Linked DNA regions of Homo sapiens. The protein of the gene in region 1 interacts with the protein of each later gene in a biochemical or structural test. Each region holds a gene or a part of one and is shown in the gene's direction. Other genes may lie near its edges.

Region 1 (7,746 bases):
TATGACAGAATTGCCCCAGCGAAATTATGGTGGTTGAGAATCACTGCTTTAGAGATTTCAGACAGTGTAACAAGACAAGGAGAATAGTTACATTTGGAAGGGAAAAACAAAAGTTATCTCTATTTGTAAATTATACTACTGTGCATCTAGATCAAAATCTAAGTGAATTAACTGGAAAAATATGCAAAGTTAAGAATGTGGCTATTTGTTGGCTGGGCGAGGTGGCTCATGCCTGTAATCCCAACACTTTGGGAGGCCAAGGCGGGCGGATCACCTGAGGTCAGGAGTTTGAGAACAGCCTGGCCAACATGGAGAAACGCTGTCTCTACTAAAAATACAAAAAAAAATTAGCTGGGTGTGGTGGCGAGCGCCTGTAATACCAGCTAATCCTGAGGCTGAGACAGGAGAATTCCTTGACCCTGGGAGGCGGAGCTTGCAGTGAGCCAAGATCTCACCACTGCACTCCAGCCTGGGCGATAGAGCGAGACTCCATCTCAAAAAAAAAAAAAAAAAAAAACCAAAACAGGCTGGGCGCGCCGGTGGCTCATGCCTGTAATCCCAGCACTTTGGGAGGCCGAGATGGGTGAGTCACCTGAGGTTGGGAGTTCGAGACCAGCCTAACCAACATGGAGAAACCCCATCTCTACTAAAAATACAAAATTAGCCGGGCATGGTGGTGCATGCCTGCAATCCCAGCTACTCAGGAGGCTGAGGCAGGAGAATTGCTTGAACCTGGGAGGCGGAGGTTGCGGCGAGCTGAGATCGCGCCATTGCACTCCAGCCTGGGCAACAAGAGTGAAACTCTGTCTCAAAAAACGACAAAAAAAAAAAGGAATGTGGCTATTTGTAAGATAAATAACAGGAATTAGTAACTTCCCAGCAATAAGAAAATGTAGTGAATAAAAAGCCCCCTTTTGCCATAGAAAAAATTTCTATAAAATTATTAGAAATAGAAACTTGACAAGAAATGTAAGATTTGTATGAAGAAAATGACAAAACTTTACTGAAAGACATAAAACAAGACTGGAAGGGGTGAGGAGTCACACCGTGTCTCTGGATGGAAAAACTTAATATGCTAAAGATCTCAACCGGCTCCAAATTAATCTACATTCCATTCAATCCTAATCAGAATTTTAATGTTGTTTCCCTACTGGGAACTTGGAAGGTTGACACTAAAGTTTGACTGGAAAAATTTGTGTGGAAAAGCTAAGACATTTTGGAAACAAATAATGAGGTGTGGCAGCCCCTACAAAATATGAAATAATACTGTAAAACCATATTAAAATCATGTGGTACTATTCCTAAATACCATAACCTAACAAAAGGAACCTGGGCTCCTTGGAAGAAGGGTCAATTTAAAATCTTTTTTTTTCTTTTCTTTTTTTTTTTTTTTTGAGACGGAGTCTCGCTCTGTCGCCCAGGCTGGAGTGCAGTGGCACGATCTTGGCTCACTGCAAGCTCCGCCTCCCGGGTTCATGCCATTCTCCTGCCTCAGCCTCCCGAGTAGCTGGGACTACAGGTGCCCACCACCACGCCTGGCTAATTTTTTTGTATATTTTAGTAGAGATGGGGTTTCACCGTGATAGCCAGGATGGTCTTGATCTCCTGACCTCATGATCCCCCCACCTCGGCCTCCCAAAGTGCTGGGATTACAGGCCTGAGCCACCGTGCCCAGCCAATTTAAAATCTTTGGCAATAAATCTGTAAGATGAGCTTCTAACTTCTTTCATACTAGAGAGCAAGGAAGGTATCCAGGACTAATAGGGTCTCAGCAAAGACACAGGATCCAAACTGAAGGTGCTTCTACTGTCCAGTGAAAACTCGTTAAATATATTAAAATCTTTAAGATCATAATAATACTTAAAAATATTTTGGCTGGGCGCGGTGGCTCATGCCTGTAATCTCAGCACTTTGGGAGGTTGAGGCAGGCGGATCACCTGAGGTCAGGAGTTCGAGACCAGCCCGCCCAACATGGCGAAACCCCGTCTCTACTAAAAATACAAAAAATTAGCCAGGCGTGGTGGTGGGTGCCTGTAATCCTAGCTGCTGGAGAGGTTGAGGTGGGAGAATCCCTTGAACCTGGGAGGCAGAGGTTGCAGTGAGCCAAGATCGCACCACTGCACACCAGCCTGGGCGACAAGAGTGAAACTCCATCCCAAAAAAATAAATAATTAAAAAAAAAATTGGAGGATGCTAGGCAATCTCATTCATTCTGAAATTGGTGAATGAATGGAAAGAGGCATGCAGAGAGAGGCATGCATTTATCCTCCCTTTCATGTACCAGCTACCTCAGAGAGTAACCAACAGGTTGACATAGGGCTGTTTTTTTGTTTTTGTTTTTGCTTTTTTTTTGTTGGAGGCAGGTCTTGCTTTGTCACCCAGCAGGCTGGAGTGCAGTGGTGTGATCTTGGCTCACTGCAACTTCCGCCTCCTGGGCTCAAGCGATCCTCCCACCTCAGCCTCCCGAGTAGCTGGGATTACAGGCGAGTGCCATCATGCTCAGCTAACTTTTTTTTTTTTTTTTTTGAGATGGAGTCTCACTCTGTCACCCAGGCTGGAGTGCAGTGGCACGATCTTGGCTCACTGCAACCTCTGCCGCCCGGGTTCCAGCAATTCTCCTGCCTCAGCCTCCCGAGTAGCTGGGATTACAGGGCCCTGCCACTGCGCCCAGCTAATTTTTGTACTTTTAGTACAGATGGGATTTCACCATCTTGGCCAGGCTGGTTTTGAACTCCTGACCTTGTGATCCACCTGCCTCGGCCTCCCAAAGTGCTGGGATTACAGGCGTGAGCCACTGCGCCCAGCCTCAGCTAACTTTCAACTTTTGTCTTTTGTAGAGATAGGGTTTCACCATGTTACCCAAGCTGGAGGAATTTTTTTTTTTTTTTTTTGAGAGGGAGTCTCGCTCTGTCACCCAGGCTGGAGTGCAGTGGCACAATCTTGGCTCCTTGCAACCTCCGCCTCCTGGGTTCAAGCAATTCTCCTGCCTCAGCCTCCCGAGTACCTGAGATTATAGACGTAAGCCAGCACGCCCAGCCTATTTTTGTATTTTTAGTAGAGACGGGATTTCACCATGTTAGCCAGGCTGGTCTCAAAGTCTTAACCTCAAGTGATCTGCCTGCCTTGGCCTCCACAGTGCTGGGATTACAGGCATGAGCCATCGTGCCTGGTCGAGATTTTTCTTTTTTACAGAAGAATTCCCACTAGTAAATGACAATCACCACCATTTTGCAGTCCTTGATACTTATCAGAACCAGGCGGTGATTGTCAGTGTGGCTAAAACTTACCTGAAAGGCTGATGGGGCGCTAGATAATGGATGGACTGGGCTGATGACCCTGAACCTACCATTAATCTTACCTGACAGAAAGACAACCAGGCATTATTGCATCCTGTGGTGATGCTGTAGGAAGAACGTAGCGCTACCTATGAAGTATACAGGAGTTACTAAAAAAAACTCTGAATTGAACTTGAAACTGATCAAGCCTCCAGAATGAACTGCCAGTTTACAGGAGATACAGGGGCAGAGGCATAGGCTAAACAAACCACAGGAGGGTAAGCAGTAATTTCCCTGTTAGAATTTCCCTCATAGGCTGGTCAAGGTGGCTCATGCCTGTAATCCCAGCACTTTGGGAGGCATAAGCGGGTGGATCATTTGAGTTCAGAAGTTCCAGACCAGCCTGGACAACATGGTGAAACACTGTCTCTACTAAAAATACAAAAATTAGCTGGGCATGGTGGCGCGCGCCTGTAATCCCAGCTACTTGGGAGGCTGAGGCATGAGAATCACTTGAACCTGGGAGGCAGAGGCTGCAGTGAGCCAAGATCACGGCACTGCACTCCAGCCTGAGACTCCTTCTCAAAAAAACCCCAAAAAAACAAAAGAATTTCCCTCATAGAATGTGGGAAATTCTTTTAGACAAATGACCTAGTTTTTTCAACGAATGGATGGCAGAGAGGTGGGGGGAAAAAAGAGGGAGAAGAATTTTATGGATTAAGAGATTCGAGTGACACAGGAACCCAGAGAAAACCCCCAAAGCGTAATATTAATGCTCCCTTTGACTTCCCCATCCCTGGCATACTGAGGACATATAACGTTCAAATCCTTTATCCCCTAGGACAACCAGCCTCTGATGTCACCTATAAATTCCTGACCCCTGATGTCACTGTGATCTGATATCCCCTTACCACCCCACCCTGGCATCTCTGGCAGAATATCTTCCCTTCCACCTAACTTTGGCTCTTCTGGCACCCTGGGGAGAAGGTTGGGTGGCGGGTGCTGTTTCCCTCCAGGCACTTTCATCTCTGCCCTGTCTTCCTCAGCTTATTCCCAGCACCTGGACAATGAGATCAGTCACAGCAGCTACCTGGGCACCGACTACCCCACAGCCATGACCCCCACTTCCCCTCGGCGCTACTCTCCAGTGGCCAAGGACCTGCTCGGGGAGGAAGACATTCCCCGAGAACCGAGGCGAATTGTGATCCACCGGGGCTCCACGGGCCTGGGCTTCAACATCGTGGGTGGCGAGGACGGTGAAGGCATCTTCATCTCCTTTATCCTGGCCGGGGGCCCTGCAGACCTCAGTGGGGAGCTGCGGAAGGGGGACCAGATCCTGTCGGTGAGGGAAGGCCTGCCCCTACCTGCACCACCCCCTCCCCACAGGGCAGAGCGCAGAGCTCTTGGGGAGGGGCCTGGATGGGCTGCAGCCGAGTCCTCTTGCGGGACCACTCCCTGCTCCACCTGGACCCAGAAGTGCTGCCTCCTGTCTCTGGTGACACAGCCTGTCGTCCTCTCTCTAGGTCAACGGTGTGGACCTCCGAAATGCCAGCCATGAGCAGGCTGCCATTGCCCTGAAGAATGCGGGTCAGACGGTCACGATCATCGCTCAGTATAAACCAGAAGGTACCAGGCCGGAAGTTCCTTGTCTTGTGAGCTGAAATGGCCCTTAGAACTCTTCCTCAGCTGATGGCTTCAGTAGGGGAGGACAGGGGTGACAGTAGGATGGGGACAGAGCTCAGAAACCTCCCTGTCCTTCCTCAGAGTACAGCCGATTCGAGGCCAAGATCCACGACCTTCGGGAACAGCTCATGAACAGCAGCCTGGGCTCAGGGACTGCGTCCCTGCGGAGCAACCCCAAAAGGGGTTTCTACATCAGGTCAGAGGCTTCCCGGGCTGGACTCCTCAGCCCCTCTGCGTTCCTGGGCACTCTGTGCCTGGCCCGGGCCTCAGCCGCTCCTCTTCTCCACCCTGCCTGCTCTAGCTCCCCACCCCAGGCCTGAGGCGCAGCCAGGGTTCATGGGCTTGGCTGCACAGGTTAACATTTGAAATACTCCCTGTCGATGGGAAAATAGCCTCTGCCCCAAGTATCCCAATTGCCTTCTAGCCCCTGGTCATCCCAGCACTTCCCCGGGACTCCCAGGCCACCCCACAATTTGGCGTCTCGAAGGTTAATGCTTGGTGAAGCAGGGTCCTCTAGGGTATTTGGAGTGTTGCCCCAGCCTTCACGTCCCTGTGGGCAGTCCCGGAGACGTGGGCCGCAGCTCTGTGGTGCCTGCCCCCGTCTCTCCAGCGGCATTTTGCTCCCCTCTTAGGGCTCGTCTCCATTGACTCTTTTTGTGGCTTAGGTTTCTGCCAAAACACACCTCTCTCCCGCCCCCGGGGGTCACCCCTCCACTTCTGTCCCTGTCTGGCCCTGTGGCTTGCATGGCCTCGTCTGCCGCTGCGCTCTGCAGATGTCTCTCGGAGGTGCTGGCCCTGGCTGACCTATTTCCAGAGGTCAAGACCTGCACTTCTGGCCATTGGCTTTCTGGCCATCTCCACTGGGATGTCCCACAGGCGTCCCACACTCAACATGTCCCACGCTGAGCTCATCATCCTGCTGTGGGCCTGGGTTCCATCTTGCTGTGCCAGCAGTTTCCCTCTTGTTGGATGGCATCACCAGCCACCCAGACACTGGCTCCCACCTGAGCCCTTGCTCTGCCCTTCCTCCCTGCTCGGGTCCGGTTGGTCCCCAAGGTTGTTCTGACTCCCAGTGACCACAGAGGTTGTGTAGTGGCTCCCAGGCGGAATGTCATCTGGTTGTCACACTTCCAGGGGGCCCGGGGTCTCCTCCCTCCTCTCCAGGCCCATTGCTTTCTTCTGTGTCTTCATTACTTCCCTGGTTCTGACCCCAGGGGTTGTGACTTACTGATAGAAATTTGATACTGGTAAGGGTAACCATTATTTGGAAACACGGGACATTTTCTTTTTCTTATGAATTTGGGCAGATTCAGGGTTACCCCTGTGACTTTATGATGTGCGTGTGTACTGCACACTGCTTTCTGTTTTTCTTTTTCTTTTTCTTTTTTTTTTTTTTTGAGACGGTGTCTCGCTCCGTTGCCCAGGCTGGAGTGCAGTGGCGTGATCTCTGCTCACTGCAAGCTCCGCCTCCTGGGTTCATGCCATTTTCCTGCCTCAGCCTCCCGAGAAGCTGGGAATACAGGCACCCGCCACCGTGCCCGGCTAATATTTTGTATTTTTAGTAGAGACGGGGTTTCACCATGGTCTCAATCTCCTGACCTTGTGATCCGCCCGCCTTGGCCTCCCAAAGTCAGCTGGGATTCCAGGTGGGAGCCACCACGCCTGGCCCAAACTGCTTTCTTGAGAGGGTCAAGTTCAAGCCCTGCCTCTGGAAACTGTGCTCAGTGTGGACTGAGTGATGGCTAATAGTTGTTATGAGTTATAGTCAGCGTTTGGTCCCCACACAGTTTTGGGTTCCTCGGCATCCATAGCTCCCATGGGAGTGCCATCTGCAGACCTCTGGGCCGGGTCTTTGGGTGACTGGGGCATCCTTCCTGGAGTCCTCAGCTGGGCTCTGACCGATAGCCACTTGCCCTCCAGGGCCCTGTTTGATTACGACAAGACCAAGGACTGCGGCTTCCTGAGCCAGGCCCTGAGCTTCCGCTTTGGGGATGTGCTGCATGTCATCGATGCTAGTGATGAGGAGTGGTGGCAGGCACGGCGGGTCCACTCTGACAGTGAGACCGACGACATTGGGTTCATCCCCAGCAAACGGCGGTGAGGCTCCTGGGCTCTGTAGCCTTCCTGCCACAGGCACTGAAGTTCCCAAGGTCCCCCGGGGTGGGCAGCCAACAGGGGATGGGTTTGCCCTCTGAACTCCTAGGGGTTTGTCTGTTGGGCCCTCCTGGGGTCCGTGGCTCCCATGAGCCTTTGGGAAGGACAACTCCTTATTGAGGAGCACAGTGTCCAGGGCTGCAGGAGAAGGGGTGTCAGCTGGCCCAGAGTATGGAGAAGGGGTTGTCAGCTGGCTCAGAGCATGGGGGTGGCAGGGGGTAGGCATTCCCCTACCCGCGTATCCCTCCATGTATCCCACAGGGTTGAGCGACGAGAGTGGTCAAGGTTAAAGGCCAAGGTAGGTGGAGGAGGGTGTGAGCCTGGGTGGAAGTGTGAGGGCTCATGGAGCTGAGCTCATAACTAACCCCGTGGCCTGCTTTTTCTTCTTAGGACTGGGGCTCCAGCTCTGGATCGCAGGGTAGGTAGGGTTAGTTCGGGAAGATGTGGGTGAGAGGAGCACTGAGTTGCTTTTGATATCCTCAAGGGGGAGACAGGGCTCCAGGTCCCCTGTTTCAGAGCCCCTTGCAGATGCCCCACCTCCCACCAGGTCGAGAAGACTCGGTTCTGAGCTACGAGACAGTGACGCAGATGGAAGGTGAGCCCTGGCCCCTGCCTTGGCCCCAGCACTTGCTGC
Region 2 (7,746 bases), on another chromosome or scaffold:
TTGCTCTGTGCACCAGATATCTGAGGCACTCTAGTTCCCCAAGGGTAAGCCTTTAAGATAAAAGCCTCACAAGGGATTGTGCAATTACCCAATGAACTCTGGCTAATGCGGCAGCCAAATTGGATAATACAAAGAAAGGCAAGCATTTTGCTGTGGGTGCTCAGCGTTGCTAGAGAGCTTTTTGAAATCCATGTCAGAAACCCCTAGCACTGTATTTCTTTATTTCTCAGGGTATTGGCCACTGCCTCCTTTGTACTGCAGTTACTTATGTACAGTATGTTCTATTGGACCAAGACTCTGACATTGGAGTCATTGCATAGAACCTAGCACATAAACTCCATTGAGAATAAAGGCATTGTGTAAATAAATCAATTCACCCAATGAATGCAGACTTTATTAGTTACAGCTAATGTTTATCTCTGTTGAACTTTATTAACCTCTTTATATTAATTGACCCATGGAGAAAATATAATCTTGACAGAATTTAAAGGAAAACCTCTTCCAATGGATTGATGACTTTGTGGCAGTACAGTCAGTCTTTTGACAAAGAAATCTAGTTATTATTCGAGAGGCCCAGGATAAGGGTCTAAGCAGTGAGTTGGAGTCAAGAAATTCCAAAGTCGGAAGGGTCCTTAGGAAGAGCTGGGACCAGAGGCAGAGTTTTTTTTGCCTCTTTAGTGTAAAGTCCTTAACGGAGAGGTTTCAAAAAAGTACAGGAAGCAGACTATAGAAAGAACAGAAGAAAGGAGAGAAAGGAGGGAAGTAGAGGAGAGGGGAGAGGAGGGAAAGAGATGGAAAAGGAGAGAGGAAAAGAGGGGAAGGGAGCTGGTTTACTCTGGAAGTTTAAATATTAATTAAGCTGGGAGAAATTAAAATAATTTAGTCCACCATTATTACCTACATTGTACATTATATAAATAAGAATTTATTATAAAAAAGATAATTTCCCACGTAAGTCTCCTGCCATGAGGCTGTAGAAACAGCATCGTACCTTGTTTGTACCTCTAGTACAGAAAAACAATCATCTAAAGAGTATTTGAAGGCATCCTAGATTCTTTTTTCTCTTTTGTCAAATTATTATTTTTAAAGTATTTTAAATTTGTATAAATTTATGGATTACACATGCAATTTTATTAGACGTATAGATTGCATAAATTGTGTAGTGGTCAAGTCAAGGCTTTTAGGGTAACCATCACCTGAATAACATTGTATCCCAGATTCTTTTAAGTAAGCTGGTTTCTCTTTATTTTGAGTCTTACCTTAAAAATAAGGTAAATTCGCTGAGAGATATGTAAATCTCTTGTAAATTCACTGTTCCTTTGTAAATTCACTGAGAGATATGAAGGTGACTCCCTTTTAGTTGTAAGAGGCACAAATCCCTATTGGGAACTTGTTGGCACAGAGTCAGAGAAACAGTCTGCTACCCTCCAAGATATAAAGGGTGCTGCTTCCTACAGTGTTTAGAACAGAGCACCATCTGGGTACCCTCTGTGGCTGCCTTCTGCTCCCATGCCATGCCATTGACCATTTACCCTATATTCCTCTTCCCAGACTTTAGATTTGAATTTCAGGAAAAGAAAATTTTCAAGGAAAAACACATTAACATCATTTCATTATAAAAACCATGTGAGTTCTTTCCCGCCCCCCAAAAAGATATTAATTGTAAGGCATAAAATGAGGGTGTTGGATAACAGCTTCATTAGCTCATTTATTGATCTGAGCACATTCATGTGCTTCACGCTGTGCTAGGGCCTGGGGTACAGCAGTAGACACGTGCTTGCCTTCCATGGGCAAACAGTCTGGTGGGTAGGGATAGACAGGAGACAACTGCTGCCCCTGGAGTAAATGCTGGATGGGAAACCCAAGGGTCTGCAAACAGCCAAGACATGGAGGGATCAGAGAAGACTTTTTCTGAAGAAAGTGATGTTTAGAAAGAAACCTGAGACTGGGTAAGCAATAGCCAGGAAATGAGCTGGAGCTCAGAAGAAATGGGCAAGAGAGAGCCTGCAGTGTTGGGGGTTTTGAAATAAGCTTCATGAGACTGAGTGTCCTTTACTGAGGGGATGGTGGGGAGAGAATATGCTGGACAACAAGATCAATACTATGAAAAGCCTGGAGATGAACTTGACTCTGAGATGATAATGGGTTTTAAGTGGAAGAGTAATGTGGTCAGATATGCATTTTGGAAAGGTCACTCTGGCCACTGTGTGAAAAATGAATTGAGAACAGCCAGAGTGGAGATAGGGAGCCATTGAGGAGGCTGTGCCCATTGTGCAGGTGAAAGATGACAGCCTGTACTAGGCCGGTCTTGAGCTGACCACTGAGATGAAAGGAGGAAGTTGATGGAGGCTGCTGGGTAAACAGGCCAGGTCTGCCACAGAGGAGACACTGGGCAGCAGGACAAGCAGGAGAGGAGGAGAGCCCATGGTTTACTTTTGCTCCTGGCCCTCTCTCCTTTAGATTTCAGATACCCACTGCCCCCATGCCACTGGCAGCAGGTGGGGTGGCAACAGGAATGACAATGCATGGTGCCAGGCAAAGTGTAGCTGCATCCCTGGCTGTCACCTGTGCTGCCTCCTGGGGTCCTCTCAATAACTCTGAGATGTTGAGTACTTTCTGATGGTCACACAGTTTGCACAAGGAAGAGCTAGGATTTGGGTTCAGTTGGGATTTATTCCAGAGGTTTTCCATGATATCGCAATGTCTCTATGTCATTTTAGGAAATACACATGATGTTTAACAAACTACCTTTGTAAATAATTTCTTTTCTCTAAGAATTGAATTTAATAATGGAATATGAAATGCTGTCTAGGGGAAATGAGAATGAGAGGGAGTTTTAATTTGAATAAATGGGCTTGTGAGGAGCTCCTGAGTCATGTCATTTAGTTACCTTGATTATGGACAGGGAGGACCCTAATGTTGATCAATCCGTAGGGATTTATTGGAATAAACAGGACAATGTTTCTATGATAACACTTGCTGTTCTTCTGTCTTGGAAATCAGAGACTCAGATAAAAAACAATTCTGTGATTCTGTGGTCTTCCTTAGATCAGACATTTGGTGAATAATAGATACCGCCAACCTTTCTAAATACAAGGATGAAGTGCATTAGAAAATGAAAAACATATTGTTGAGATTTTTACGAAAATTAAATTCATAATCAGCATCATAGACTCATGTGTTATATTAACCAAGGAGAGCTGAGGAAAGTTTTGAGAGCCAGAGAGAGGGCAACATTTAGTCAAAATAATGTTTTTAAACAAAATGAAGCCATATCTCTAAGCAGCTCAGGGCTCTTCATATATGATGTTTTTGTTGAGTTGAATTTTTGTTTGTTTATTTGGTGGCTGAATGTTAGTGGTAGGATGAATGTGCAAGAGAAGCTAGCTTTTGGAGTCTATTAAAGAAGGAAACAAGGAGAATTAGTAAAGACAGAGGTGGGAAGAAGGAGGTCTGAGGTAATGCTGTACATCTTGTTCTTGAGGGCAGAGGTGTCCCCTGGCATGTTTGGATGCCAAACTTCTGCTAGGTTTCAATCCCTGCTACATCCCTGGGGATAAGTTGTTCTCTGGGAGATAACAGTAGATCTGCCAGAAAACTCTTCACCAATGGCCCAAAGTGCTGACTTCATGGTTAAGTGGCATGTGGAAATAAATGGCATTCAGAAAGCAAAGGGTCACCAGCCTGGTGGCCAATGAAGTGACTCATACTTTGGGGGCTCCTTGAGGCACTTTGTGGGTGACCGGGTAGAGGAAAAATCAGTGCAGCAAAATTCTCCAAGGCACTGAGTCCATGAAAACAAGGCCCTGTGAGATTCATTCCCCTCCATCCCACTTCCTCTGGAAGCTCAGAGACCAGCTCCGTTTCACATTCAAAATATGTCACAATTTCAGTTCCTTTTATCTGTGTTTCTGTTTTGATCTCCAAGAACTTAATTCACCTTGACTTTTTGAAAAAAAAATTCTGAAAGCACAAGACCGTTCTTGGAAGGCCAGGAAGGTCTAGAAAGCTTGGCATTTCTGACATGACATTTGGAGCCTGTTACAAATAAACTCTGAGTTGTCAGCTTGGGTCTCAAGAGTAAACTCTCAGTGATACTTCCCTGTTCTGGAGGGCCGTGTTAATTCAGCACTCTGAGGCCTCTGGGATTTTGAGGAACAAATGTGTTGCAGAATCCTCTCTGCACAACTTCAGAGAGCTTATTCTGTCAGCCTTTGCAATAACAACAGCTAACACTTAATATGGCACTTTCTCTGGTCCAGGCCCTGACCTAAGTGCCATTCATGTATTATCTCACTTCATCCTTACAACCCTATGAAGTAAGAACTATTATTAGCATTACCCCTTTCTTTTATTTATTTATTTAAATTAATCTTTTTTTTTAATTTTTCTTTTTTATTGAGACAGTGTCTTGCTCTATTGCCCAGGCTGCTCTTGAATTCCTGGGCTCAAGCGATCTTCCTGCCTCAGCCTCCCAAAGTGCTAGGATTACAGACATGAGCCACTTTGCCTGGCCGCATTACCCCCTTTTACTGATAAGGAGCTGACGCCGAGGGAGATAAAGTCATTTTCCCATGGTCATAGAGGTAGTCCGTGAACAAATCAGGATTTAAATCCTGAGGTTGCTGCTCTGTTACTGCTTCCCTGCAGCTGAGAGCAACACCTGTCATGCTTCTCACCATTTTTTATCATTAAATCATTTCTCAGCCTTGTTTTTATATATTTACTAGTGCCCTGCAAAAATTTTGCCTCCTTAATGCTTGTTCTAGGTCCCAATTCTGAGGTTTAATAATAATAGTTAACATCACTGAGCGCTCACCCTGTATGAGACAACTCACATTTATTATGCCATTTATAGATGGCATAACTGAGGCTCAGAGAAGATAGGTCACTTCTGCAAAATCTCACAGCCAGTAAGTGGCAGATGTGGCCTGCTACCTTACACCAACTGTCTCCTGTGAACACTTCTATTTATTTTAATTTATTTGTCAAATTGACAAATAATAATTGCATATTCATGGGGTATATATTGATGTTTCTATACATGTAATGTATATTGATCAGATCAGGGTAATTAGCATATCCATCATCTCAAATATTTATCATTTCCTTTTGTTGGGATCGTTCAATATCCTCCTTTGAACTAGTTGAAACTATTTAATACATTATTGTTAATTAGAGCCATCTTACAGTGGTATAGAACATTAGAACTTATTCCTCTCATCTAGTGGTAATTTTGTATCCTTTACCAAATCTCTCCCTTTCCCCCACTCTTCCAGGCCTCTGGTTTCCTCTGTTCTACTTTTTACTTCTATGAGATCAACTTTTTTTACTATTCCACATATGAGTGAGAACATATGGTGTTTGACTTTCTGTTTCTGGTTTAGGAAATACAATGGACTTAACATAATGTCCTCCATTTCCACCCTTGTTGCCACAGATGACAAGATTTCATTCCATTTTATGGCTGAATAGTATTCCATTATGTATATATACCACATTTTCTTTATCCATTCATCTGTTGTTGAACACTTAGGTTGATTCCATAACTTGGCTATTGTGAATAGTGCTGCAGTAAACATGTCAGTGCAGACATCTCTTAGGCAAACTGGTTTCAAAGCTTTTGGGCAAGTACCCACAAGTGAGACTGATGGATCATATGGTAATTCTACTTTTAGTTTCTTGAGGAACCTCCATATAGTTCTCCATGGTGGCTATACTACTTTACAGTCCCACCAACAACACATGAGTTCCCTTTACTCCACATCCTTGCCAACATTTGTTTTTTCATCTTTTTGATAATAGCCATCCTAACTGGGGTGAGATGATACCTCATCGTGGTTTTGAGTTGCAAAATCATCACTGATGATTAGTGATGTTGAACATTTTTTCATATACCTGTTGACCATTTGAATGTCTTCTTTGTGAAATGTCTGTTTAAATCATTTACCCATTTTAAAATTGAATATTTTGCTGTTGAGATGTTTGAGTACCTTGTATATTCTGAATATTAGTCACCTGTCAGATTAGTAGCTTGCAAATATTTTCTCAAATTCTGTAGGTTATCTTTTCACTCTGTTGATTGCTTCCTTTGCTGTGCAGAAACTTTCTAGTTTGATAATCCCATTTGTTTATTTTTGCTTTTGTTGCCTGTGCTTTTGAGGTTTTATTCACAAAATCATTTCCCAGACCAGTGTTCTGAAATGTGTGTCCCATGTTTCCTTCTAGTAGTTTTTATCATTTTGGGTCTTATATTTAAGTCTTTGATCCATTTTGAGTTAAATTTTGTAGAGTGAGAGGTTTGGGCCTAGTTTCATTCTTCTATAGACATCCAGTTTGCCCAGAACCATTTATTCAGGAGACTGTCTTTTCCCCAATGAGTATTCTTGGCACCTTTGTCAAAAATCAGTTTGCTGTAGATATTTGGATTAATTTCTGGATTCTCTATTCTGTTCCATTGGCCTATGTGTCTGCTTTTGTTAGTAACATGCTATTTTGGTTACTATAACTCTGTAGTGTATTTTGAGGTTTGGTGGTGTGATACTTCCAGCTTTGTTCTTTTTGCTCAGGTTTGCTTTAGCTATTTGGGTTCTTTTGTGGCTCCATACAAAGTTTAGAACTTTTTTCTATTTATGTGAAGAATGTCATGGGTATTTTGATAGGAATTGCATTGAATCTGTAGGTTGCTTTGAATAGTGTTGTCATTTTGACAATATTAGTTCTCCTCCATGAGCATGGGTTGTCTTTCCATTTGTTTGTATCCTCTTCCATTTATTTCATCAGTGTCTTGTAGTTTTCCTTGTAGAGGTCTTTCACCTCCTTGGTTACATTTCTTCCTAAGGTTGTTTTTTGTTTGTTTGTAGCTGTTGTAATGGGATTGCCCTCTTGATATTTTTTTTCCAGCTAGTTCATTGTTTGTGTAGAAAACACTACTGATGTTTGTATATTAATTTTGTTTCCTGCAACTTTATTGAATGATTTATTAGTTCTAAGAGTTTTTGGTAGAGTCTTTCTATATATGAGATTATCATCTGTAAACAGGAACAATTTGACTTCTTTCTCTTGAATATGAATGCCATTTATTTATTTCTCTTGCCTAATGACTCTGACTAGGATTTCCAGTGCTATATTGAATAAGAGTGGTGAGAGTAAGCATCATTGTCTGTCCCTGTTCTTGGAAGAAAAACTTCCAACTTTTTCTAATTTAGTAAGATGTTTGCTGTGAGTTTGTCACATGTGGCCTTTGTTATATTGAAGTACTTTCCTTCTATACCTAATTGTAAGAAGTTTCTATCATGAAGTGAGCTTAAATTTTATCAAAAGATTTTTCTGCATCTATTGAGGATCATATGGCTTTTGTCTTTCACTCTATTGATGTGATGTATGATGTTTATTTATTTGCATATGTCGAACCATCCTTGCATCCTGAGATAAATCCCACTTGATCATGGTGTATTGTGTTTTTGATATGTTGTTTGATTTGGTTTGCTAGTATTTTGTTTGGCATTTTTGCTTCTATACGTATCAGGGATATTAGCCTGTAGTTTTTTTTGTTGTTGTTGTTATGTCCCTATTCAGTTTTGGTATCAGGGTTATGCTGGCTTCATAGAATGAATTAGGAAGAATTAATTCCTTCTGCTTCAATTTTTTGGAATAGTTTTAGATGAACCGATATGAATTCTTCTTTAAAGATTCAGTAAAATTCATCAGTGAAGCCATCTGGTGTTTCTTTTTGGGAGACTCTTT
Region 3 (8,249 bases), on another chromosome or scaffold:
TGAGGATTGATGATAACCTAAGGATTTTATCCAACACTTTTGATTTAGAGGTGAAGGGTTTGAGTCCCAGAGCAGTTAACAACTTGATTTTGGTCACAGAGCTAGTTATCAGCAGAGAACTGTAGAACTTCTGCACATGTCAGTGCTTTTCCACATTATGTTCCAGGACATAATTCATACAAGTTAATTGTGTATTTAATATTTATTTTAATGCAATAACCCACTCACATTGTGATTTTAATTCAGCATATTTTAAAATCTGTTTTTAGGACATTTGAGGACAAGAGACAGGCAGGAAAAGTGTTTCAGTGGAAATAGCATGGGCTTAGTAGTCAGGATTGGAATTCTGACTTTAATATTTATCAGCTCCATGACATTGGAAGATATTTTAAATCTCTGTGCCAGAATTTCCATAACTTTATAATTGGAAAAATATGTCCTATTATGTTGGGATTAAGAATCCCAATTTAAATAAAGTGTATAGAGACCTGGGATTGTTGAGTATGCAGACAAAAAGGCTGAGAGTTGTAGGAGACTGTGGTGCTGATATTAGTATTCAAACTGTTGACTAATAGGGTCTCTTCTTAAGAGGAGGATGGATTCCTGTGGTGCATGGTTGAATGTAAAGCCACTTAAGGAGAGAGTAGTGTCTGCCAGAGGCACCAACATACACTGATCACCTGCCTCTTTCTTGCTGTCATGGATTTGATGCATCAAAAAAAAGTCAGTTATTACACCCTTAAGTATCTTTCTGGGTCACAAATTCTACTAAGTGTAGCATTGACTTTGTTGCTTGTCTTTCTTTCTTTCCTCCTTTCCCCCAGCCTTCTCCTCCTCTATCCTTTTTTGAGCAGCAAGAATCCTACCCCTTTGGGATGGTTTTATGATAAAATATAACTATAGGACAATGGATTACATTGTCTTCTATGTGTCCCTTTATATGTGAACACAGCAGATGGTTCTTCTCACTTTGATATTATCCTTAATATTTAGTTTTACTTACAAAATTGTGCAACAATATGAAGTACAGTATCTCTTATTTGCTGCCAGTCTTTCTCAGAGAAAGCACATTTGCCCTCCTTAATATTTAGTTTTACTTACAAAATTGTGCAACAATATGAAGTACAGTATCTCTTATTTGCTGCCAGTATTTCTCAGAGAAAGCACATTTGCCCTCTTGTAAAAGAGGGGGTATGTTAAGTGTGAGAGAGTAGACAGATCTCATTCACGAACACAAACATAGGGTTAAACTAGCAGGTGAACAGTGTGAAGTGTGTGTGTGTGTATGTGTGTGTGATTTTCCAGGTTAGGGATCCAGAAAAACTTGCCCTAGTTAAGGATTCACCAGCTACTATATTTCTTTAGAAAACTTGCTTTAATATTACATGTACAATTCCTGTGAATTGCCAGATTTATGTAAAGAATGACAGGGAGAAATTCTTCAGTCTTCTATCAGGATAGAGCTCTGCTCCAGGGAACGCTTATGCAAATCTTGCAGATTTTCTTGCTGGAGTGTTAGATGAAAAGAAACTAGTAAAGAGTTTGAACCTGGGAAACGCAAAGAATTTTGGGAAGGAGGACTGATTGTGGTTTTGATTTGAATTTGACACACGTGACTTTTCTTCAACAACTTCTCTGAGAAGGATGAAAATCAGGTTAAATGAGGCTATATAAGTGAAAGGGTTTATAAATAGGATTGATTTATGTGAAGGGAAGGCACGCACAAACAATAGTTACTTTATGTTTCAATGTAAAATAGTCATCGTCTTGACTAAAGTGAAGAATCTGTTTTTTTAGGAAGTCTTTCCCAATGCTTGATCAATCTGAGTTGTCAGGTGCCTACGCCAACTTCACAAATAAACCAAGAATATTTCTGCATTTTTCTTTTCCAGTTGGAGAGTGGCCTTTAAATACTTTATTGAAATACAATATATCCAGCAGGGCTGGATTTGTGGGTATGAGCTTGGGCAAGCTTCTTTTCCTAAAATCAGAGCACAGACTATTCATTCTCAGCAGACTACTCTTCCTAAAGTATTTAGATTGCTTTTGCTAACTGTAAGCCTTCTTCTTCTTCTTTTTTTTTAATGGAGAATAGCTATGCTTCATTTTAAAAATGTCAATTCTAGTATAAACACAGCACTCTTCATATTGAGAGCTTTTGAACCCCGCTCCTGAACAGAAATACAAAGGAAACCCTTGAAAGCAAAGCAGATGTTGTACTGGCTATATCTAGGCCTTGATTTGTTTATAGTTTAAAAATCCATGGGAAAATAATGATCAAAGGCAGGGTGTAATTCATAGAGAAAATTGTAAGACGACTTCATCTGGCTAGATTCTGTAAAGAGTCTTTGATTCAAATGGTTCACACAAAGAAAAAATGTCCCATAGGTTCAGAGTTCTTTCTGGCAATAAACTTCCAGTGTAAACAGGAAGGCTCTTGGGCCTCTTACAAATTTTAGAAACAAATGATACTCATTGCCTTGCACTCAATAATTTTGACTTTGAGACAAGAGTTGGAATGGTTAATAAAAAGTTCCAATTCTAAGTTCAATATGAAGTTTATTTGCCGTTACCATAATATTTATTTGTGTGCGCAGCAGTTTATTGAAAGAATGTGAAGGACACATGCTATTTAGTATATTTAATACTAACTAAAATCCTATAATTCGAAAGAACTTGACTATTATATAATCAGTACCAAAGAAGAGAACTAGGAACTCCAATCCTTTATGCTGATTGATACTGTGTAGCAGAAATATTAAACAATTACCCCAAAGTTAGAATAATGTAATTTTCATTATAATTTAGAAAAAGGGGCTAGTGAAACTTTTTTAGCAAAACTGATGATTTTTTATGATTAAAAGTGTAATTTGAGTCTAATTTTCAATGGACACAAATGCACATAGAATTAATTGAAGTAATGGGGAAATCAATAGTAGATGCACAACAGTTTAAATAATAATTGTAACAATTATTATTTTAAAAGAAACTTCCTCAGGATGAGAAAGAATACATATATATAAGAATATATATTATATATATTCTTTCTCATATGTATATGTATATACATATACATATATATACACACACATATATATATATATATATATATATATATAATTTGAAGGGGGAGTGTCTGAGTGATAGTACACACTTTTCTATCTTTAAAGCCCATTTAAGATCTGGGGAAAAAGGTATGTCTCTGAACCAGTTTGAGTGGATTTTTCCAAATGAAACCTCAAATAGCATTTATATTTAAGCCCTAACAAACACTTGGGAAGATTTGAAGTTAAAAGCAAATTGTGGTGGGGGTACAGCACAGGTTTTGTGGTTTGGTTTTGTTTTGCTTTTTAAATAAACACAGTCCACAAAAACCCATCTGCCTTCACCTGGAAGGACCAGTTCTTTAATTAAAAAAACGCTTTGGCTTCGGTTTCACTGGGAAACTAAAGCCAGAGCCCCTAAACTTTTCTCTCCGCAGATCGGGTGAGCTGGGGAGGGTGCTCATCCACTTCATTGCAGGGGGAAGTACAGCCTGGAACCCCTTTCGGGATACTGTCATTTGCCCCTTCTTCCCATCTCTTACTCTATCCTCAGAACCAGTATGAGAGTTTTCTGGGGCTAAGGCAAGGGGCAGTGGGGTCAGGCGCTGGAAGGACTGGTTTGCAAAGAGATAAGCTTTGGAATGAAGCCGCACAGCTGAAAACTCGCGGCAAGACATGCTCGCGCTGTGGCGAGTCAGTTCGAGAAGCATTTATCCCTACTCCCCTTAGCTTTCTGAGCAGCATTTGCAGTCAGGTGCAAACAGATCGCATATTTGGCGCAAAGAGCCCTGAGGATGAGGGACGTGGGATCATTCCCCGGTTTCCCCCGGGCCAGGTGCTAGGTCGTTTGAGGAGGAACTGTTCTCCAGTTCTCAACGCCTGCAAAGGCGGCTATAGGTGGCAAGCGGAGCTGTCCAGCACTAGTGAGGAGCCAGCGGAGCCGGGAGCCCCGCGCACCCCGCCCGGCTGAGGCTCAGCAACAGTGCTGTCTTGTCAGAGCAGACGCTGTCCTCACTGCCGCCCCTTTCTGGGCTCGCTCCGCGCCCACACGGCCTCGCACGAGGCGGGGAACACAAGTCCCCAGGAGCTGCTCCAGCAGGATGGGCGCCAAAATGTTGCCCCTGTCCTTCCCTTCCCCTGAAAGCGTCTCCTCTGGAGTGGGCTGGCTGGACGCTTGGCCTTTCCCTTTTGCCTCGGAACTTCCTAAATAAACTCGGAGAAAGGACAACATGGACCCTAACCCCCACTTCACACTGTCAGGTTTCCCCAAGGTGGCTCCAGGGGGAGGCCTCTCGCCCCCCAGCCCCGAGCCCTTCTCCCCACCAGCGCCGCCGGGACCCATCTGCTCCCGAGGGCCGAGGATAAGGCGTTTGGGGTTGGGGCCCTCAGTCCGACCCGAGCTCCTGTGCGCACCTCCTCGGAGCAGGGAGGGCGCGCAGAGGACAGCAACGAAGTGTCCTCGTTGCTCCTGAAACGTGGCGACAGGCGAGGCAGAGACTCCCAATGAGTATGATGGCGACACGTGATTCCCGCGGAGGGAGAGCATGGGGGGGGGCGGGGGGATAAAGGGAGAAGGAGGGAGGCAGGGCAGCAAGTGGAGAGAGGCGGGAGCAGAGAGGGAAAGGGGGCGAGATAGGCGCGCAGGCGGCAGAAGCCTCTGCCTCTGCCTCCCCTTCTGCTTGGGCCGCAGCCCTCCCCGCCCCGCCGACCGCGGTCACACACTCTCGGAGCCTCCCCGTGAGCGGGAGCGCGGCGCACGGCGATGCGCCGAGGCGGGCGCTGAGGCGGCGCCGCGCGAGCAGCAGCAGAGGCGGCGGCGGCCCCCAGCCCAGCCCGGCGCCGCCGCCGAGCCCGGGCCCCAAGGTGCGGCGGCGCCCCAAGTTCCCGCCATGAGCAGCCGGCTCGGGGGGCTCCGCGGCCCCGGGGACTCCCGCCCCGCCGGGCGCGACCGCAGCGCCCCGCGGCCCCGACGCGCTTAACGTTGTCGCTTGCCGGTCCCGCCACCGCCGCCTCCGCCGCCGCTCGCGTCCTCGCCGCCACCGCCTCGGCCGCTGCAGCTCCGCCGGCAGCATGTCTCGAAGGAAGATTTCGTCCGAGTCCTTCAGCTCCCTGGGCTCCGACTACCTGGAGACCAGCCCGGAGGAGGAGGGGGAGTGCCCCCTGTCTAGGCTCTGCTGGAATGGCAGCCGGAGCCCGCCCGGGCCGCTGGAGCCCAGCCCGGCCGCAGCTGCCGCTGCCGCCGCCCCGGCCCCGACCCCGGCTGCTTCTGCCGCCGCCGCCGCTGCCACTGCCGGGGCCAGGAGGGTGCAGCGCCGGAGGCGGGTCAACCTGGACTCGCTGGGCGAGAGCATCAGCCGCCTGACGGCGCCCTCGGTGAGCGGGGGGCGGAAGGGGGGACCGCCTTCGGGGGAGAGAACGCGGATCTGTAAAGTTGGCGCTGGGCGAGCCGGGGCGCGAGCGCAGAGCCCGACCGCTGGGGGGCGGCCCGGCCTTACCCTGCACGGCCTAGGGTTCCAGTGGCTCCGGCGACAGAGGATCCCCTAGGCTAGGGCGGAAGAGGGGACTACAGCACTGGGAAGGAATAAGATTCCACTCCTTTGGGGTATCCTGATTCGGGGGCCTGTCTGCCCACCTCTAGCCTTGAACCCTACTTCACCACTGTTCCCCCTGGACAGCCCCAGTGCTGCTTCACACCCACCTGTTTTCTTTCCCCTAAACTTTCCCAGGCACTGTGTTCTGCAGTTCAGCTTCCCTGTCTTTCATCCTGTTCTCCAGCATCCCAAAGGAGCCCCAACCCCTTCCAGGAAACCCTTCCTCTCCTTATTTCCCACACTCTCTTGGTCTTAGCGTGACCTTCTCTGACATCTTTGAATTCCACAGGCTATCTGCATTCTATGTTGCATCCTTTTTCTCACATCTTCAGATACTTTTTGCCAGATACTTTTCTGAGTTGCCTTCTGTTCAAGTAATCTCTAATCTCGAGTTGTCCTCACCCCGTAGCTTTTTTTCTTTTTCTTTCTTATCCACTAGGCATTTATTCTTCTCTGGGTAAACCTGGTGTCTGGATTTCTTTTTTTTTAAATTAAATTTAATTTAAAGTCCCGGGTTACATGTGCAGGATGTGCAGATTTGTTACATAGGTACCAAACGTGTGCCATGGTGGTTTGCTGCACCTACTAACTCATCACCTAGGTATTAAGCTTCGCATGCATTAGCTATTTAAACCGCTCTGTACTTCTTGCACCTGTACCTCATCCTTTACTCTCTCCTCAATGGATTCTCTAGTGCTTTCTCTCTCACATTAGCTATTTAAACCTCTCTGTACTTCTTGCACCTGTACCTCATCCTTTACTCTCTCCTCAATGGATTCTCTAGTGCTTTCTCTCTCACATTAGCTATTTAAACCGCTCTGTACTTCTTGCACCTGCACCTCATCCTTTACTCTCTCTTCAATTGATTCTCTAGTGCTTTCTCTCTCATTTTTTGGTGGCTTCTTTATATTAGGCCCTTCCTAAATATTTGTGGAATGAATAAATGCCTCTCCAAACTTGTGGTCATCTTGGGATGTCTGTATCAGCAGTTTCAGGTGTACAACAAACTCCCCCTGGTTGTAGGCATCCTTCCAGAGGAGTACTGCCTTATTCCTGCCCAGGCATTTCAGCTACCCTTGGCTTTTACCTCTTGCAGGAATGCCAGACCTCTGATCCAATCTTACCGTGTCTGGGAGAGCTCTGTTTTAAAGAAATCCACTCTGTTGCAGACAGAATTTGAAAAAGATTCAGCGTCAAACCTCCACCCATCTTTTATGCTCACCCTGACCTTGGATACAAGAGCTTTAGCTCCTCCTGACAGCACTTTCACCTGCCCACCCCTAGGACTTTTACTTTTTTAAAGTTTCCGAAATGAATCTGAACACTGATCTTGTTTGATTACTGTTGAGTCTCTCTTTTGAGATTACTACTGCAAATGATGGTAGGGGGGACCTAAGAAGGAGTGGAACCCTGAGGGGACTGAGTACGGGTACCAGACAGGTCTACAAATATTCTTGTGGCACTTGTATTAATGGAGAATGATTTTTTTCTTTTACGAGACCTGATTGAAGATGTATAAATCACTTATTACATTATTTATTTTGAACTAATTTAATTCTTAGGAACACATATTGAGAAACAGTCATCTTCCTATTCTTGTGTATTTTCGTATTTGATATATCTTTCTGCCACTTTTTCTTTCATCATTAACCTAGAAAACAATCCTCAGAATAGATTGGCTACTCTTTGCTGTTCTTCCCTGCCAATATTTCCCAGGCAGCGTAATTTTATAAACTATTTGATGTTGCAAATTGTTGAAAATATTTATTTACAACAGGAGTCCAATGACCCCGAGCGTCTGTAGGCTTGTGTCAGTACTTAAAGCAACATTTGTGCAATAAAATAGTTATTTAGTACAACAGATTCTTATTTAATGAAATGATTTTGCTAAAGATAATGATTAGTTTGGGGAGAATTGTTGATATAACCTTGGAGGTTTTTTTTTTTTTTTTTTTTTTTTTTTTTTTTTTTTTGCCTAAGAGAATTTACAGATTTCTAAAAAGTAATGTCAATGCCTCTGATAATGCTAATTTAAGCTAAGACTATTTTCAACAACTTACATGAGGAGTAGATAAAAGAAACTGAGAAATGCAGTATTTTCTGCTAGAATAAGAGGAAGGAAATAGTCTCTGATGGTTACTTTTATAAGTTAAATTTGAATGACTGGCTTTTTGCTGGATGAAAAGAATGTATCCAGAGAATGGTTTTCAGAATAAGCAATTTAAAAATAATTGTGATGATCAAATAAATGCAACAGCTCTATATACTTTCCATGCCATAGTTGTTTTCTATTATGAAAAGGGTCTGTCAGGTGGACGCTGAGAACATACAGGTGAATATACTGTAAACATTTTCAACATAACACATGTATAGAAAAATTCTCCTTGGTTAACCATATCATCAATAGACTTAGTGACACAAATAAAAGAGAGAGATTATATTTCAAAGCAGTGACTCATTTCTGGGCAGTCCTTACCTTATTTTATTTGGCAAGTTAGAACACTAGCTCAAAAAGTTCCAGTAGATTCATTTTTTGACATTGTCAGGATTTGAAACTTCTTTGAATACTCTTCAGGAGATGGATTATGTCCTCTCTATTCTCTCATGAAAGCTG
Region 4 (8,455 bases), on another chromosome or scaffold:
GTGACTTCTGAGTTTTCCCTTTCAAGTCCTACTTGTTCTATATTACTTTTTACAATTATACTTCAAATCTTGTAAGACCCCCATTCCTCTGCTTGTGACACTGCCCTCAACAGGGTCTATAGTGAGTCCGTGGGCATATTCCTGCCTAGTATGACCACCTCCCTTCATGCCGTCTCTTGCCTTACCACTGTATAACACTTAAGAAACTGATCTTAAGAAGGACACTACATGTAGAACGAGTGCACATTTTTTCATAAATGATCATCAGGACGAATTCTATCCTGACTCACTTCCAAGTTAATCTCAGACACCCAGTGCCCAATTACTTAATTGCATGGTTCCTCACCACAAGTGAGCCCTCGGTGCTGCCAGGCAACCCTGCTACATTCCCCAACCCTTTCACTTTCCAATTCTCCTAAGTGGTTATTTTGCAGTTTTCCCCTCCCATTTCTTTTCTTTTATTTGCTTTTTTCTTTTTTCGGAGATGGGGTCTTGCTCTGTTGCCCAGGCTGGAGTGCAGTGGCTCAATCTTGGCTCACTGCAACCTCCGCCTCCTGGGTTAAAGTGATTCTCTTGCCTCAGACTCCCAAGTAGCTGGGACTACAGGTGCACGCTACCATACCCAGCTAATTTTTGTATTTTTAGTTGAGACAGATTTCACCATGTTGGCCAGGCTGGTCTTGAACTCCTGACCTCCAGTGATCCACCCACTTTGGCCTTCCAAAGTGCTGGGATTGCAGGCATGAGCCACCACGTCTGGCCACCCCTCCTATTTCTAAGGCCTCCTTCCCCATCCTCACTTTCAGCTGATGACCTTGCTTTCCTTTTTACTGAGAAAATTTCTTCTGATTGCATAGGTGAATGTCCACTAACTCCCACAACTTCTACTCAATTACTTGCAGCTGACTTCTGCTCTCTGTCTCTCTCCCATTTCTATAGAGAAATTGCCCTTTTCCAAGGCCAATCCCTTATTTTGGGTCTTAGATTCCATTCTCCTTTTGCTTTCTCAAGAACATTGCTCTGATTTTTCTCTTTCTACCACATCACTATTTCTTTTCTTTCTACTGAGTCATTGCCCTTAGCATACAAACATATTGTAATAGATTTCATCATTTTTTTAAAAAAAGTCTCATCACTCATCATCTTCCTTCAGTCTACTACCCCATTCTTCTGTTCCCCTGGGCACCAAAACTCCAAGAGCTGTTTTTACCTACTGTCCTCAGTTCTCTCTCAATCTCTTTTCAACTCAATTTTTCTAAATCTGATAGTCATTTCTATGTTCCTCATTCTACTCATCTTACTGGCAGTAAGCAACAATGTTGATATCTCCCTTCTTCTTAACATACTGTTCTCATTTGGTTTTGCAGACCCCACATTCTCCTGTTTTGTTCACCTCATCATCACTCCTTCTCAGTTTCCTTTGGTGGCTCTTCCTTCTTTTATCGACCTCTCAGCATTAGAGCGTCCCAAGGCATGATCTCTGCATATTTCCTCTTCCTTTTCTACCCTCAGGTTCAAGTGCTGTAATCTCTGTAATCTGCTACTCTGGCTTTAATTACCCAAGTGGTTCTCAGCTGAGGGTGATTTTTGCATTGTCTGGAAACACTTTTGGTTGTCACAACTAGGGGAAGGTGCTACTGGCATCTAATGGCTGGAAGCAAGGGAAGCTGCTGAATATACTAAAATCCACAGGACCACACCCCACAACAATAAAAAGTATTCAGCCCAAATGTGCTAAAGTTGAGAAACCTTGATCTACCCAGACCTCTTCTCTGAACTCTAACCTTGTATGTTTAACTTTCTACTCAACATCCTCATTTGCATATTTCTAGGTATCTCAAAGGTAACATGTCCCAAACCAAAGTTGTGATTCCCCATGCCTCAGCTCAGCTTCCCTAGAAAGCATAACCCAAGACAGGATTATGTGCGAATGCTTTAATGGGAGGTGTGAAGCCAGAACCATGAGAGGAAGAGAAAAGGAGAGTGAGACAGGGAAGGACAGGGTGCAGATCCAAGGAGAAGAGTTACCAAACTAGTTACTGCTTCATGAGTCACAAAGAGACACAGCCTTTTCATTAGACCATGTGGTTGCTTGGCCATGAAAATAATAAAGGTAGAGGGGATTTACCGACGAGCTCCATCCTAGCTTGCATCTCCCACTGGGCAAGCTCCTCTTGGTCCATTGAGCTAATGCACCCCTAGGTTTGTGTTACTCACCTAGGCCTTTTTGCAGTCTTGAGGAATCCAGATTCCACTCCTTGCAGTGCTGTCAACTTCAAGAGGCAGAACTCTGCCACCCATCGAGTTGACTTTTCCAGCAGCACCTGCAGTGGGGCAAGTGGCCATTGGACAAGACAATGGTGAGCTGGAGAGAATCTGAGGAGATGGCCTACGCTGCCCAATACAGTGACAACTAAGACACACAAGGTCTCAGACTTCAAGGAGCTCCTAAGCTGCCCAACACAGAAGATCTCAGAAGACACAGAAGATCTCAGACTTCAAGGAACTCACATCTAGGTAGGAGCGAAACTGTTTGGGACACTCCTGCAGTAAATGATATTACCATTTATCTGGTTATTAAGGCCACAAGCCTAGGAGACAGTCCTAAAACTTTTCTTTCCTCACATCCCAAATTCTGCCATCTCTATTTCAAAATGTAATTCTCTTCCAAAAACTCCTTACAAGCTCACCACAGTCTCCCTCATCTAAGCCAACATTGCTTATGCTACTTAGTAACCTCCAACCTTGTGTCTTGTTTCTAGTAGCCAGAATAATCTCCAAGAAATGCAAATCATATTGCTATATTGATGCATATCCTCCAGTAGGTTCCCATTGTACTCAGAATGAAATGAACTATTCTTACCATAGCCTTAGAGGCCCTGCATGATCTGGGCTCTGCCTGCCTTTCTGACCTACCTTTGATGACATTCTTTCTCAGTGACTTCTTTCTGGCCATACTGGCTCTCTTGTTTCCTGAATATGCTGAGTCTGTCCTTGCCTTGGGACCTTTGCTCTTACACCCATCCTTTCATCTTCCTGTTCCTTGCTCTCTCTTCTTGATGTTTTTTGTTCAAATGTTACTTCTGCAGAGAGGCCCTTCTTATCTGCAAACCTATATTTGTCACTTGCTGTGCCTGATTCTTAATTTTCTTTATCTAACACTATAATGTATGACGTATATGTTTATTGTCTGTATCTCCCACCAGAATATGAGCTCCATGAGACCTGGGACCTTATATGTCTCCATTCCAGTGCAAGGGCACCATCTGGCCCATAGCTGGGGCTGGGCAAATATTTGTTGAATTAATAAATATCTTCAGACCCTTACCAAGGGAGGACTTCCATCAAGAATGCTGAGTTCCAGTTAGCCAGGAGTGATGGCTTGTGCCTGTTGTCCTCCCAGTTACTCCAGAGGCTAAGGTGGGAGGATTGTTTGAGCCCAATACTTCAAGGTTGCGGTGAGCTATGATTACACTACTACACTCTGTCTCAAAGAAGAACAAGAGGAAGAAGAGGAAGAGGAAGAAGGAGGAGGAGGAGGAGAATGCTGAGTTCCCAGCTCACAATTTTCTTCCAGTCCCTTGGAGGTCCAGTCCTGCTGTAAACACATCTATCAGAGATGTGGAAGATTTCCTAATATGCCCCCCAATAAAACCCGGAATTTAGGAACCTGGGATCTCATCCAATCTGTGAATCCCTTGTAGTAAGGCAATCTCCTAATGCTGAGTCAGGGCACATGCATTCACAAGAAGCTAGGAAGATGACAGTCTTAGGGACATTTAAAGGAAGGCAATGGGTTATAGGAAGAGGGAGGTACAAGATAAGGACAGATAAAGTGGAGAATAGGGAAGCTCAGTAGTGCTAGGATATGGTCAGAAAACCCTTGTCTCGTAGGGTTATCCCCAGTAGGGTTCTAGCAGTGGCAGCAGCAACAAAACCAAAAGACTTGGCAGTACTTCAGCTGGGAGCTTCATATTTATATCTTTGTTTTTATTTTTAAATTTTTTTAAAAAATATATTTATTTGCATTAGAACAGCAGTGCAGAAAGGTAGGGATCCCTGGAGCTATTGAGATTGAGGGATATGCGTGTGGAAGGTGGGAAAGGGGAAGAGTTTAATATGGGAAGGAGGAGTATAAGAGAACTCATTGTTCATGAAAGAAAAGCTGGGGTACGGATCTGAAGGAGGGGAGGGAACATACACTTTTGTTTTTCTGAAAGGAATGCTGGCGTCTGAATCTGGAGGAAGGATTTAACTAGTTCCAGACAGGGACTGTTGCACTGCCTGGGCAATCCCGCAGGGGCCCCTGCTTTCCACTAGCCACAATAGAGCGGGAAGGATGCAATCATTGGCTTTGATTAAGGAGGTGGGTGGTGTAGGCGGGAGGCAACGGTGGTGAGAAGGGTGGTCCCAAGGCCGCGGGAGGAGCCAATCAGCGGCGACTCTGGGCTCTTGCAGCCTCCTTAGAGACTCCGCAGCCCTGGAGGTACCAAGCTGCCTGCTGCCTTTTCTCGCGCTGCAGGCGCGGAGATGCAGCGCCTCTGGGGGCGCAGCTCCAGCCGCACTCGCAGGGCAAGGCACACGCCCCCGGCTCCTGCTGCCATGCGCCTCTGCGGGGGACCCTTTCCAAATAAATTGCAAGCTTTGAAAGTGGCCCTGTGGAGGCACTAGGCTGGGGAAAAAGGCTGCGGGAGGAGGGACATAGGGTGGGAGGTGAGTAGGCGACTTGCTTCTCAGATTATTCCCAATTAGCACCAAGTTGGCAGACAACCCCACAAACCCACGAAGCCTTCGGTCCCCCACAAGTCACATTCCCTGTATTTCAGAATAATCGGATCGTAAGAAAACTTCAAGTCCCATCGTAGGTTAAAGAGGGACAGGCTCTTAGTACCGCCGCCGCCCAGTAAAACTACATGGAACAAACCCAGGGATCCTCATCTGCACAGCTCTGCCCAAAGTCTGCAGCTCTGCGAGTCCAGCCGGCGGGGGAAGCTGGGTGGGCCCCGCAGAGAGCAAGGGCCTTCTTGGGGGAGGAGCGGGATGGGGCGCAGAGCAGTGCGATCGAAGAGGGTTACTGTGGGACTGCACAAAAGCAAACCCGTCGGAGGAGTTTTGCCAGAAACACCACCGCCTGCATTGCGTCGGACCTGACCATTTCCAATGTGAAATTCCCGGGGAAGGTCGCGAGCCGCTAGGGGCCGTTCGTGGGCGGGGCGGCGGGCCACAGGGGAAGTAGAGTTAGCGGTCGGCTTTTCTGGTAGGAGAGGAAAAAGCTGTGCTGGCAAGGGTGGGAACTGAATGACAACCCCGCTCTCTTCCAAACCACCCCCTCATATTTTCCATCCACCTCCTCGCTCCTGCCCTCCCCCGCCCTCCCCAACCCACGCCCGGGTGGGCCAATCGCTGCTCGGTATTCCAGGCGCTTTCTCAGGTTTCTGCTGATCTTGCAGCGCCCAGAAATGGACCGAGCGGACCCGCCGCCGCACGCACCCTGCTCCACTCCAAGCTCCTAAGGGCTCCTGGCGCGCCGCGTAGCCTTGGCGAGGTCCGCGCTGGGGTGCGGAGAGCGAAGGGAACTGGAGAGCCATGTAGATCCAGGCTCTCGCCCGCCCGCCTCCTTCGGGATCGAATCAAGGGCTCCCATAGTGTTAGGAGGGGGCGAGAGTGCTGTTTATCGTCATTTGCCTCGGAGCTTCGAGAGAGGGTGGTATTTTGCTTTTCCGCCCCGCATCCTCCGGAACTCCCTGCACCGGAGAGAGGACGGCGTCTCCAGGTTGCTGGCAACCGGTGAGAATGGGGGTAGGGAAGGAACATTTTCGCCGTAGCTGCTCCGTAAAGCGATTGTCCAACTGAGAGGGGCGTCGGACGAGTGGACCAGGGCGGCGAGTTTGCCCGGCGCGTCTCGGATGCTGCTGCGGCGGCCGCCGCGGCTCCCGCCAGGGCACTGCAAAGACGACCTGCCGCATTCCCACTCGGGCTCTCCGCTGACTCAGCACCGCCCCTGCGCCAAGCCAGCCGGCCAGGTAGGGGGTTCCCCAGCTCGGGGATGCAGAAGCGGGGGTTGGGGGGACCGGGTGGGGGAGGCCGGGGGTGCGGGGATGCTGTCCGGGACCCTGAGCTTCCCCCGGCGTCTCTCGGCGCTTTTCCGATCTCTAGTTTAACGAAGTTGTAAACAGATCGGCTGTTGGGCATTGGGGAAAGTGGGATGGAAGAGCCCCAAACTTGGATTTCCGGGTGTCTGCGTGTCGTCTGTCCGTGTGTGTGTGATAGCCCTAGCAAACGTCCAGTGCTTTCTCAAGCTAGAGGTCTGTGTTCTTCGGTGTCTGTAGGTCCGTCCCATCTGAATGCTTCTGATTTTCTACCCCCGTATCACTTTCTATTTCTCTGCAGCGTGCATCGATCGCCCTGGTGGGAGCTTAGAAGGCGGCAGGCGAAGAGGGGTAGGAGGGGGGAGAGCCGAGGAGAAGCAGAGAGGGTGGCAGGCGTGGGGATCTGCCGAGCCGGCACTGCACCGGGTCCTAGGAAGGCTCTCGGAGGGGAGGGGAGGCCAGGGCGACCCCCGAAGCAATGGCCCAGTCCGCTAGAACGGCACTGCGTTAAGGCACCTGGGATCAGGAAGAAATATCTAAACAACAACAACAGAAAACCAACAAACCCCCAAACCCAAACCCAACCCTCTGCAAAAAGCTGCACCCGGCCCGCAGGCGAGGGGGATTCCAAACTGAGTGAAAGGCAGGGTGGAGGGGAAGGCAGCGAGAGGCAAAGTCGCAGATCTCCCGACCTGCTCGTGTTGAAGCACCTCCCCCTGGGCGTGAGGGAGACGCGCGCTCCGGTGGGGGGGCCGCTTGGGTCCCCCCCACCCCTGGTCCCTGGCTGCTTCCCACCCCGGGCTCTCTCCTGGCCTCCCACCCCCGCGCCCGGCTTCCACCATGACGGTGATGTCTGGGGAGAACGTGGACGAGGCTTCGGCCGCCCCGGGCCACCCCCAGGATGGCAGCTACCCCCGGCAGGCCGACCACGACGACCACGAGTGCTGCGAGCGCGTGGTGATCAACATCTCCGGGCTGCGCTTCGAGACGCAGCTCAAGACCCTGGCGCAGTTCCCCAACACGCTGCTGGGCAACCCTAAGAAACGCATGCGCTACTTCGACCCCCTGAGGAACGAGTACTTCTTCGACCGCAACCGGCCCAGCTTCGACGCCATCCTCTACTACTACCAGTCCGGCGGCCGCCTGCGGAGGCCGGTCAACGTGCCCCTGGACATGTTCTCCGAGGAGATCAAGTTTTACGAGTTGGGCGAGGAGGCCATGGAGAAGTTCCGGGAGGACGAGGGCTTCATCAAGGAGGAGGAGCGCCCTCTGCCCGAGAAGGAGTACCAGCGCCAGGTGTGGCTGCTCTTCGAGTACCCCGAGAGCTCGGGGCCCGCCAGGGTCATCGCCATCGTCTCCGTCATGGTCATCCTCATCTCCATCGTCATCTTTTGCCTGGAGACGCTCCCCGAGCTGAAGGATGACAAGGACTTCACGGGCACCGTCCACCGCATCGACAACACCACGGTCATCTACAATTCCAACATCTTCACAGACCCCTTCTTCATCGTGGAAACGCTGTGTATCATCTGGTTCTCCTTCGAGCTGGTGGTGCGCTTCTTCGCCTGCCCCAGCAAGACGGACTTCTTCAAAAACATCATGAACTTCATAGACATTGTGGCCATCATTCCTTATTTCATCACGCTGGGCACCGAGATAGCTGAGCAGGAAGGAAACCAGAAGGGCGAGCAGGCCACCTCCCTGGCCATCCTCAGGGTCATCCGCTTGGTAAGGGTTTTTAGAATCTTCAAGCTCTCCCGCCACTCTAAGGGCCTCCAGATCCTGGGCCAGACCCTCAAAGCTAGTATGAGAGAGCTAGGGCTGCTCATCTTTTTCCTCTTCATCGGGGTCATCCTGTTTTCTAGTGCAGTGTACTTTGCCGAGGCGGAAGAAGCTGAGTCGCACTTCTCCAGTATCCCCGATGCTTTCTGGTGGGCGGTGGTGTCCATGACCACTGTAGGATACGGTGACATGTACCCTGTGACAATTGGAGGCAAGATCGTGGGCTCCTTGTGTGCCATCGCTGGTGTGCTAACAATTGCCCTGCCCGTACCTGTCATTGTGTCCAATTTCAACTATTTCTACCACCGAGAAACTGAGGGGGAAGAGCAGGCTCAGTTGCTCCACGTCAGTTCCCCTAACTTAGCCTCTGACAGTGACCTCAGTCGCCGCAGTTCCTCTACTATGAGCAAGTCTGAGTACATGGAGATCGAAGAGGATATGAATAATAGCATAGCCCATTATAGACAGGTCAATATCAGAACTGCCAATTGCACCACTGCTAACCAAAACTGCGTTAATAAGAGCAAGCTACTGACCGATGTTTAAAAAACAAAGGCAAGCAAACAAAAAAGCCCCACTTAGCA

Evidence for each region.
Region 2: the proteins of DLG4 (region 1) and CYSLTR2 interact in a biophysical measurement, tested with the Homo sapiens proteins (2 studies listed by IntAct, with this or other methods).
Region 3: the proteins of DLG4 (region 1) and GUCY1A2 interact in a test that uses a peptide from one of them, tested with the Homo sapiens proteins (2 studies listed by IntAct, with this or other methods).
Region 4: the proteins of DLG4 (region 1) and KCNA1 form a complex in vitro, tested with the Homo sapiens proteins (3 studies listed by BioGRID and IntAct, with this or other methods).

What each region holds. Positions count from the first base shown.
Region 1 is NC_000017.11:7,193,628-7,201,373, reverse strand, and holds part of DLG4 (disks large homolog 4), read left to right. Parts: intron 1-4,321; coding exon 4,322-4,617; intron 4,618-4,798; coding exon 4,799-4,901; intron 4,902-5,039; coding exon 5,040-5,154; intron 5,155-6,878; coding exon 6,879-7,055; intron 7,056-7,373; coding exon 7,374-7,410; intron 7,411-7,502; coding exon 7,503-7,530; intron 7,531-7,659; coding exon 7,660-7,707; intron 7,708-7,746. UniProt on the Homo sapiens protein: Postsynaptic scaffolding protein that plays a critical role in synaptogenesis and synaptic plasticity by providing a platform for the postsynaptic clustering of crucial synaptic proteins.
Region 2 is NC_000013.11:48,656,736-48,664,481, forward strand, and holds part of CYSLTR2 (cysteinyl leukotriene receptor 2), read left to right. Parts: intron 1-7,746. UniProt on the Homo sapiens protein: Receptor for cysteinyl leukotrienes. The response is mediated via a G-protein that activates a phosphatidylinositol-calcium second messenger system.
Region 3 is NC_000011.10:107,014,921-107,023,169, reverse strand, and holds the start of GUCY1A2 (guanylate cyclase soluble subunit alpha-2), read left to right. Parts: upstream 1-4,693; 5' UTR 4,694-5,114; coding exon 5,115-5,417; intron 5,418-8,249. UniProt on the Homo sapiens protein: Has guanylyl cyclase on binding to the beta-1 subunit. Isoform 2 acts as a negative regulator of guanylyl cyclase activity as it forms non-functional heterodimers with the beta subunits.
Region 4 is NC_000012.12:4,904,450-4,912,904, forward strand, and holds the start of KCNA1 (potassium voltage-gated channel subfamily A member 1), read left to right. Parts: upstream 1-5,455; 5' UTR 5,456-6,023; intron 6,024-6,390; 5' UTR 6,391-6,929; coding exon 6,930-8,417; 3' UTR 8,418-8,455. UniProt on the Homo sapiens protein: Voltage-gated potassium channel that mediates transmembrane potassium transport in excitable membranes, primarily in the brain and the central nervous system, but also in the kidney.